2 separate regions of the Homo sapiens genome follow, and region 1 is linked to region 2. The links come from fine-mapping of genetic effects on gene expression. Tissue or cell type: cerebellar hemisphere. Region 2 holds a variant in brackets; the other region holds the start of a gene. All regions are shown on one strand. Distances are between the middles of the regions.

Region 1 (5,113 bases), 610 kb after region 2:
CACATTAATGACATACAATTCTGCTAATACATCAATTAAAATGAGGTCTGGATATTGATCACTGGATTTATTAGTGTGAATGCCTTTAATGTTCTTGATGAAAATATTTGCATTGGAGTGGTAAAGGCAAAACCTGATTAGAGTTGGTGAAAAATGAACTGGAGGAGAGGAAATATATACAAGGAATGTGACTAAAGTTTGGGCTTAGAAACATGGACTGTAGGAGCAAGAAGGAAGACAGCTAATAGCAATGTACATTTGGGTAGAGAGTAGATGTCATGAGGACAGAGTATAATATTTCTCCTGATATTTCTGTTTAGTTAGTGAATTTCCTAGACAAGATCATCAGCTAATAATCAGGGTGCAGCCAGAAATGAAGATTTGAGAGAGGTAAAGTGATTGGGTCATTAAAAAGTATTACGTCTAGCAATGCCTCTATGACTCAGTGAGTTTAGTGGTTATAAATATAAAATAAGCCCTAAGGGCATGTTACTGAGTTGTTCTTCAATCACTTAAAACAGTGCGGATGCAAATACTAAGAAGAAAGAAAGTGGATTTATCTGAGGTGAGCTTTGCCTGGGAAGATCAATAAATTGAAAGAGAAACAGGAGAATTGAGGGTATACAGAAGGAAGTGATTAAAATAATTGCATGAAAAAATTCAAGTAAGGAGGAAAATGAAAATATGAGTGTACTGGCTTGAATTGTGTCTCCCAAAAAGATATGAGGAAGTCCTAACCCCCGGTACCTGTGAATGTCACCTTTCCTGAAAAGAGAGTCTTAGCAGACCTTATCAAGTTAAGATGAGGTCATGAGGGTGGTCCCCAGCCAAAGATGACTAGCGTTTTTTTAAGTACAGAGGACAGAGACATAAAGGGAGAAGATGGCCATGTGGTAACAGAAGCAGCTGTTGGAGTGATACACCTATAAAACAAGGAGTTCAGGCTGTCAGCAAACACCAGGAGGTGGAAGAGGTAAGGAGGATTCTTCCCTACAGGTCTCAGAGGGAGCATGGCTCTGCTGACACCTTGATTTTTGACTTCTGGCCTCCAAAAGTGTGAGACAATAAAGTTCTGTTTTAGGTCACTCAGCTTGTAGTACTTTGTTAGTGCAGTCTTAGGAAATGCATTCATTTATATGTTGTCTGTGGTTAATTTACCACCAGAATGGCAGAGGTGAGTGGTTGTGATAGAGATTGCATGGTCCTACAAAACCTAAAATATTTCTTATTTGTCCCTTTATAGAAGTTTGTTAACTCCCTCATCTAGAGTTTGGAAATGGGAATGAAAGGCTGAAGTAGGCTACAATCCAATGCAAGGTTGCACATAAGAAGCTCTGAATAAGTGTAAACATTATGTGCATTCAAAACAGTAACATTAACTGTGGACTCTGGAAATAAGAAAAGGAATCGTGTTGGAGAGTGAGACTGAGCCAGTTGGGAATAGACAAAATTACATTCTCAAGGGAGAATTTCATTTCTTGGTGAGGAAAATTATGCCCTTTGGGCTGGTAAATACTGTCTCCTCTTGAATAAAACAGTGGTCTGGCCACCTGTTAGACACTGAGAAGTCTAGACTAACACTCAATGTATTCGGATGTTTGCTCACTATTTCCGATGGAAAAGTCTGGTTTGATTGTTAAAGTAAAATATTTGGCCTTTCAGAGTGTGAAAACACCATTGCTTCATTGCAAGGTTTAATATAAACCCATTTTTCTTGCATTTTCTTTTCTTTCTTTTGTAGTAAAATGTGCTTGAATAATATTAACTATTCTGACCATTATGTGAACTAAATATATATATATATAAAATGATGATACCTTCCGCTCATTTGCAATGTGCTTTTGAATACATTATATAATTTAATCCTTAAAACAGCCCTATAAATCTGTTTTTTTTTTTTTTAAACAAAAAAATTCTGCTTTACAAAGGAAGAAGTTGAGACTCAGTAAAATTAAGTGACCATCCCAGAGTCTCAGCCACTTAAGAGTAGGGTGAATCTTGGATAATTCTGGTAGCAAATTTATTTATTGGTAGAAAATAAATGCAAACTACTACTGCTTAAGATCCTCTAAAGTTTTTCTCTTGGAAAAAGAATGTATTAGAATTGTGGACTTTCTCAGTGCAAGGATTTATTTATCCTTGGAATTAGGCAGAATAAACAATTGAATGCCAAAAATTCAACGTGTTTCTTTTCTGTTTTCAAAACTCATAGAAATTGTAAATATGAGCAACTGATCATGTCTCTGAGAATTAACTCTTTTTGTACAGAGCGCTGCAGAGCTTTGATTGTGACCTGATACTTGGTCCTTAAAGATTCTAGAACACCAATGGAAAAGAAAACCATGTAGCAAATTAGCCCAAGAACCGTTAAAGACAAAACAAAACAAACCAAAACCAAAACACACAAACAAAGAAAACACAAGGATCCCAGTGATGTCCCTAAGGAATAGTTGGCTTAAAAACTTTCTGGAAGGAGGAGGGGTCTCTGTTATAAACTTCCGCCCTCCTCTGGCTTCTGTTCCTTACCCTCTGCCCCCTGCGGAGTTGTGTTTTCTGGGAATCAGCAAGTAAGATCACAAGTGGTCTTTTCTTTTATTCACTCTCTCCCATAAAGAAAGCTTTATCACGTGTGGCCTTAAACTTGCAGCAAATTGCAAAGAAATGGCTCAAAAGCTTCAGCTCTTTCTGTGCCCTGGGAGCTGAGATGCACGTCAGTGGCCTTGCCAGCGTGGCCAATTCTCTGCTGACTGCCAGAAAAAAGAGGCCAGGAAGAAAGAGGAAAGAGAAGAGATCGCTCAGGGGTGAGACCATGCCCTTCATCTTTTCTTTTCCCTAATCTCCTCTGCTTGTGTCCACCCACACTCTCCCCACCTGGCAAAATTGTTCAAAATTGCTGTGGAGTTTACCTCAGTTTCCTCTTTCAGTCTGTGGTGTGTGGTCCATCCTCTTGCTGAGCACATTGAAAGGAACTGGCTATCTTTGATCTCTTCCTCCAGGTAAGACTTGGTTCTCTCATTTTATATTTTGTGACTAATACATCAGATTCTTATGGGAGATTAACCCTTAATTTCTGTGCGATTTATGTTTTATCCATAAAAATATCAGTGAAAGGTGATGATCCCCTCATTAGTTTGATGGAAATAAGAGAGAAGATTGGTTAAAGAAATCAGATAAACTCAAATTTGAGTTCAAATTTTGAGTCTCATGCTTATAAATTGTTTAGCTTTTGACAAGTCACTTAATTGCTTTGGGCCATCTAATTTAAAAAATGGAATTCTAATATTACGTTTGTTGGGTTGTTTTAAGGATTAGAAAAAGTACGTACATTACTCAACACAAAAATAGTACTTATTAAATCTGAATCTGACACAGATAATTTGTATTAGGTGAGAAATTAGTTTCTAAACAACACACACTCCTCTGCAGCAAGTGCCGTGAGGCTATTTTTTAGTTTGTCTGAAGGGAGGCATCCTGGTGTCCAGAAGTCAAGCCAGGACAGAGGTTTTCCTCACAGGAGATGGCCAAGAGAAGAGAGGGAGGAGCGTGGTTGCCTTTAGGACTTTCTCTGTGGCAGTCCTTGGGGACTGATTGCTGGACAGAGTCCGAGTCAGTTGCAGAGCAGAGGGGTTGAGTACATCTGCGGGATCTAACTACAACCTTCCTAAGCCACTTGCTCTCTCCATTTAAAATCTGGAGGGCTGATTTTGAAACTAATGAGGACTGATTATTCAATGTTTTTGAACCAAAGGAAGAGAAACTGCTTGGCTTGTTTTTCTTTGGCCTCCAGAATAAGTTATGCTCCAAACCCAGGGTATTGGATGAAAACTGTCGTATGTCTTTTCCTGGAAGAATCTATTCAAGTGGCCAGAGATCAATTAAGGATTTGCCAAATGCAAATAATTCTGAATAACTGTGTACTCTTGCTCTACTTCTGCAGTTGCAAATGAAGAGAGAGAGCCTGCAGGCCCCAAGGATCTTTCCGTTCATGTCATTGAGCTTCCTTCCCTCTCTTTTTACAGGGGATGAACTGTAGCCTCCTTGGAACATACTACACTTGCAATAATTTGCGCATTAACCATCAAGACACTTCAGTAAAGCTATGCAGTGCCAATAGTTTAAGCTGGATCCTATTTTGCCCTAACACAAAGTGAACTGAGATGACTATATTTATATTTCATTATACTTTTGAATTTTAGTTACAGTGATTTTTGTGTCAACACCTCCATATATTAGATAACTTAAAATGTGCTATAGTATCTCAAGTTTTTCAGTAGTGTTTTTAACATAATTATTTTTTCTCTTTGACATTAGCATTCTAGATGTAACACTTTGGATCTTTTAAAGATAAATTTAGGATAAATGATAGCAGATTTTATTATTAAACAATTTATTTGTATTTTCTGGTCACTGACTTTAATATTATGACTGATGAGAAATAATATGATATCTGAATCCCCAAAAACAGAAGGCCAATTTGAATTATATAATTTAATCCTTTGAAGAATATTGCAATTTAAGCCAGAAATTTAATAATTATCCGTTTCTTATTTTAAAACCTTTCTGGTTTGTATATCTCTTGCTTGGCAATATTTTTACTCATAGTTTTGTAGTAAAGATACCTATTTAACATTGTATAACTCTGCATTTCCCAAACCCTGTTTTCCTTGTCCTGGCAAAATACTGTTCTAGAAAAGTAGTCCTAGTGACTCAGTAGATATAGGAAGTTGGCTGTTGGTATCAGATACTGTTAAGGAAGAATCTCTATATTCTTCATTTCTTAAACTTTGTTTTTTAAATCAGTAATAGATGTCGAATTTTATCAACTGATGTTTTTCATGTAATGAAATTCTATTTTTTATTTTGAATTATTCATGTGGTAATTTAGGTGAATAAATTTCCTGTAATTAACCAATTGTTGCATCTTTTAGAATAATTCTAATCATAGAGCAAGAGTTAATTTGGATTTGCTAGCATTTACTTAGAATTTTTATAATCTATGGGCTTGATCTGAAGTTTTCCTTTCTGTGCTATCTTTGTGCTGTTTTGTTACCAAGATAATGTTATTTTTGTCAAACTAATGGAGACAATGATTATCTGTTTCCATTATCGGCTA
Region 2 (5,219 bases):
GACATGACTGTGGCCAGATATTGGGGTAGCACAAGAGATAACAATAGGAATGCCAAAGTCCATGGCTCCGTCTGGGTTTGCAAGCTGACAGGAGAAAATCAGAAGACAAAGCCCAGGGCCTCAGGAAAGACAGGCTTGCCTGGGAGCACTTCTTGTAGCCACTAGTTTGTGCTAATCCTCCTTTTGGAGCCTGGAATTTTCCCACAGCAACTATACTTTTATATTTTTTGTAAGCGCAATTCTCCAAAACTAGCATCTCTTACTTAGAAAATAAATTGTTGAGATCTGAAGTTAAGGTTCGTAGATACTGAGTGAAGGCATAGGGAGCCTTTCCTTTAGCAATGACCATGAATTTTAATGTGTACATTTTGTTTGACTGCCTTAGGTATCTTAGTTTTTATCAATACATTCTTAGCTAAATGATAAATAAATGAATTTTCTTGACCACATTTATGTGTAAATAAGGTTGCCAGATAAAAGGCAGGATCTTTACTTAAATTTGAATTTCAGATAAACAATAATTCAATTTTTAGAATAAGTATGTTTCAAATATTGCGTGAGACATACTTATTCTAAAAATGTATTCATTGTTTACCTGAGATTCAAATTTAACTGGGAATTCTATTTTTTTTCTAAATCTGGAAACTCTACATATGAATGACTACAATAATGTGAACACTAGTAATTACTGAGCACTTTCAGGAACAGTGATACTATTTTAACACACATTATCTTAATTTTTACAACAATGGATCAACACAATTATTATTCTCATTTTCCAGTTATAAAACTGGGACTAGAAAGATTAATTTCTAACAGTTTGCAAATGGTAAAGCTAAAATTCAAACTCAGATCTGTCTGACTCCCTAAATAACACACACGCATACTCTGTGTATGTGGATGAGAAAAATGCACCTGTCCGGGCATTCTGTCATTTTTGGATATTTGGATTCCAGATGCAATTGTCATTTATTATTCCTTATGGTAAATTCATAAAATGCAACCATTTTATCTCTCTGTATGTTTTCTTTGATCAAAAGGAGAAAACCATTTTCTATTACTTGAGTTCAGACAGGCATGTGGCTGAGCTTTCTCAGCAGGTGCCGGTTTTCCTGTGCAGTTTGAAGCTGTGTTTAGGTAACTCAGAGAAAGCCTTCTGGCCACCCTGCTTCTGATGGTGTCCAGCGAATACCTCATAGCAACAATGTCAGTTTCTTACTCATTTTTGTTACTTACCTAGCATTAGGAAGTTTGCTGAGGTGAACATTATTTTAATGTTGTCAATTGGCCACTCTCCAGGAGCTAATTGTTGACAATTCTCCCTTGCCATTAAATAGTAAATATTACAAATCGTTGAGGCTAATAAACCACTTAAGAAAATGAATGTCATGTTATTGTGACATCTAATGATGAACGTCTGAAGCCATGAAGGTTCCTAGACTTCTTTGCGTTTTGGGATTTGGGAAGTTTTGCTTTTTTGCCTCAACTAACCTCTTCTAAATGGTTATTTAATCACTAGAAACTAAACTACTACCATCTAAATTAGAAAACTGTATTGACTTTTAGAGAATATATTATCAAGGACCAGAATCGAAAAACTATAATTTACATTCCCTGTCGCCTCTTCTGTGGTTATTGAATTCTATTGGCAAAGCACTCTGGAAGCATTTGCTATTAACATGACTAAAGCAATTATATGAGGCTTTTAAATAATGTCCAGCAACGGTATTCTTTATTGCATTTAACATTAAGAATCTTTGGCAACTCAGGAGCTTATTATCATTAAATAAGAGATCCTCATCCTCACATATTATACAGAAATATTAGTTTTAAAATATTTTTCAAAAGAAGTAGTTTTTAGCTAATTCTTTTAAAAATAAAAGCAGTAGAAAAATGTAATCTGTTAAAAATGATCTGTGGTTTTTGTCTGCACGATATTCATAACCATTTAAATCCTTTCGTATAAAAGTTGGTCAGTATTCCAGTTATTTTATTGCTATTGTCTGTCTTCACATAGATCACAACAAAAATATCAGAATTTTATTTATTGAGTTCAGATTTCATATTTGAAAATATATGTAATTGAACTGTATTATTTTCAACTACCTGAGTCCTGTATAGAAATATTCAAATGATTCATTGAATTTTTCACTTTTCATCTGGATGTTTGTGTTTTATGTCAATACAGTCACAGATTGAATTTACTGTGATAAACCGTGGCAAGAATCAACTATCTCTCATATGACATCAAAGTGTTTGAAGGGAAATGAGTGTACCAGTTTCTTTGCAAAATCTGCAAAAAAAAATTTGCAAAATTTACAAATTTCAGATGCAAAAATCTGACTGGATCTGAGATAGCAATTGTGATCCCATGGTAAAAGAAAAATAATTTCTCAAATTCTTGAGGTACAAAGTAAGCAATAGTCTTAAAAGTCTTAAAAGTTTCAAGTGTCTAGAAACTTGTCGGCATGATTATCAGGAGATTGGGAACACATGTATTCCTGTTATGATTACCTCAAACATCACAGAACAGCTAACAAGCTTCTCAGAGGTCATCCCTTGCATTCTTCTTAAGGTACATTTTTATACTCTAAGGATATTGATGTTTACACACTAAAGCACATGACATTTAGTTTCATTAGTTTAACTTGACACAATCCAGTGGAAAGCAATACTTTTTAATAAGCAGTGTATAAGACTTTAAAGAAAAAATTACCAACTGGTGCCGATATGAGAAAATGGAGAATA[GCAA/G]CAACAACAGCCAACACCACTGTGGTTACAAGTCAGTAATAGAATAATATTAATACTTTCTGAGAGTTTACTATTTTTTTCTTTCTTCTCTGCCTTTTATTTTAAACAATATCTTTATGAAATTGCAAATTGCAGGACCATAGATATTATTACAGTTTTTGGAGAAACCAGAAAGATAGAGAAAGGATATATAATAAATTCCTGCCATGATCTTAATTTTTTCAATGTAACCTTTTGAGATAAAGAAGTCTTAACCTATAGATCATGTTTTATTTCACATAGAATGAATTAAATACTCAAGAGCTCTCTATGAAGGAGGCAAATATTCCCACATACTTAACCTCATATATCTTTATTCTCTCTTTGTTTTCTTGAAATAAGAGTGCGTTTTTAATAACAATTGTGTTATGAAGAATCTCAAACATACACAAAAGGAGAGAATTGTATAGTGAACTACTACGCACTAATTGTGAACTTCCCTGTTGTCAATAGGACATGACTGATTATTTTGTTTTTATTGTCAATTACTTACCTCCTTCTTGCTCCCATTAGGTTGAGTTCCTGATATCATACTGGCTTTTTTTGGGTAAGTATTTCTTTATGAATTTGTAAAAAATAAAGAAACCCATTATTCTATTATCACACCTTAAAAATAACATTAATTTGCCGGTATTGTCAAGTGTCCAGTTAGTACTCACATTTTTCATTTTTCTCCAGTTTGTTTATTTGAAAAAGGGCCACATAAAGCCTATACATTGTGGTTGGTTAATTTGTCTTTTTAATTTTCTTTAGTGTAATTTCTGGAATAAAGATGATCATTGATATATACTCTTCTATAGTGACCATTGCCTTACTGCGAGGGTAGTTAAGGTAAAACACAATGTTTTAAGATTGATGCTATCAATCTATGTAATGCCAAGTAAAACTATAAGTAAAATGGTCAATTTTATGAGGTCTGGGTCTAAATATTGTTTACTTTAAAAATCTGGTGATTTATTTCTTTCCATTTTTATTTCACATATTTTCTTATTTTGTACATGTAGCAATGTTCTAAATATAAATTTAAATGTTGACATTTTAAAAGTTTGCCATTGATAGTGATCTTTAAAAAAACAACTTTCAGATTGAAATATTCAATTAAAGCAATAATCGGTTGCTGTTGGTTCTTTGTATGTCACGCTAATTACAGATTTTCTCCTACTTATATCAAGATGTTTAATTCAGTACCTAGTTTATCTTGATTATAAATTTAGATTCTTTTCCTGAACCATGGAAGTTGAATATAAAACTGTCAGAAGATATTTATGTACTTTATTTAGACATAATTTATATAATTAATTCTAATTGGTACTATAGTTGTTAGAGAGAAACTAGTTAAAAGCAAAATAATCCACCAGTCTCTTAATTTACTTTTTATAAAATAATCACATTATACTTGAATTTGTTCTAAATATGCATTTGATTTAAAAATGTCTTTTGATTGCACAGTTTCTACTCACAAGAAGTGACTTGAGATAATTTTCCCCTTGAATTATTTAATCTACTTGTCCAGGGCATTAATTATGAAAATGACATTTAAGACTATCCTGTCTTATTAATGATGCTTACTTTTTTGCTCATAAGTATGAAGAGTGAGAATTGGAAGTAGATACTATTACTGTTGTTATCACTTAACAGGTACCTAATTTACTTAGAACAATGGAAAAAAGTTAGAGTTTTCTTGTTTGCTTGCTTGTTACAGAATGTGCTAAACAATGCAAACTACTTTTTTTGGCTCTTCTGAATAAACAGGTGCTCTTAATAACCCTGATTCTCCAATAAATATACATTTTTTTGCCTTTGTAAAGGAAGTAGAATTGCAACTCATACCTTCAGTTGAATATTATAATATGCTTAGCAATTGAAGTTGCTTTCATAAATAAATTTTCTGTTAAAATTCTGTACAGGGAAAATAATGAACCATGCTATCATTATTGCCTCCTTCATCTAACAATAGGTCTCTAAGCAAAGTTCGTGTGGGCAATGGACGTCTTTACCCTAGGAACACAGCTAAAGCCTATATGTCACTTAGTATGTGCTAGGCACAGTTATAAGCACCTACGTACATTAACTTATTTAATCCTCCTAACAACCTTAAAGGAAGTTACTATTATTATGATATCCATTTTACAGAAAAGGAAATTGAGACATAGAAAGGTTAAATGACGTCTTGGCTGGCATACAGCTAGCTGTGGTGGGACTAGGGTTTGAATTGAGGCAGTCTGACTCTATAGATTTATTTTTATCCACTATGCTATACTGCCTAATAAGCATAGAGCATGTCAGTGGTTGCCTGGGAGTTAGTTGTTTGATGTAAATAATGGAAATTTTCTAAATCTTGATTGTGGTGGTGGCAACATGAGTGTATTCATTTGTCAGAACTCATCAAACTGTGCATGTGAAATGGATGCATTTTATTAGATGTAAGT

The links. PIP is the estimated chance that this variant, and not a neighbour inherited with it, causes the effect.
Region 1: it holds the start of SLCO1C1, and the variant in region 2 is fine-mapped to the expression of SLCO1C1 in cerebellar hemisphere (GTEx, PIP 0.97).

What each region holds. Positions count from the first base shown.
Region 1 is chr12:20,692,812-20,697,924 of GRCh38, forward strand. It overlaps SLCO1C1 (solute carrier organic anion transporter family member 1C1), which reads left to right and starts at 2,521. Exons shown (of 15, transcript NM_017435.5): 1 at 2,521-2,996.
Region 2 is chr12:20,077,861-20,083,079 of GRCh38, forward strand. All of the region lies in intron 2 of LINC02398 (long intergenic non-protein coding RNA 2398), which reads left to right. Among named protein-coding and RNA genes, the nearest start is that of LINC02468, 47 kb to the right of the region's middle. The variant GCAA/G (reference allele first, on the strand shown) is at 2,749.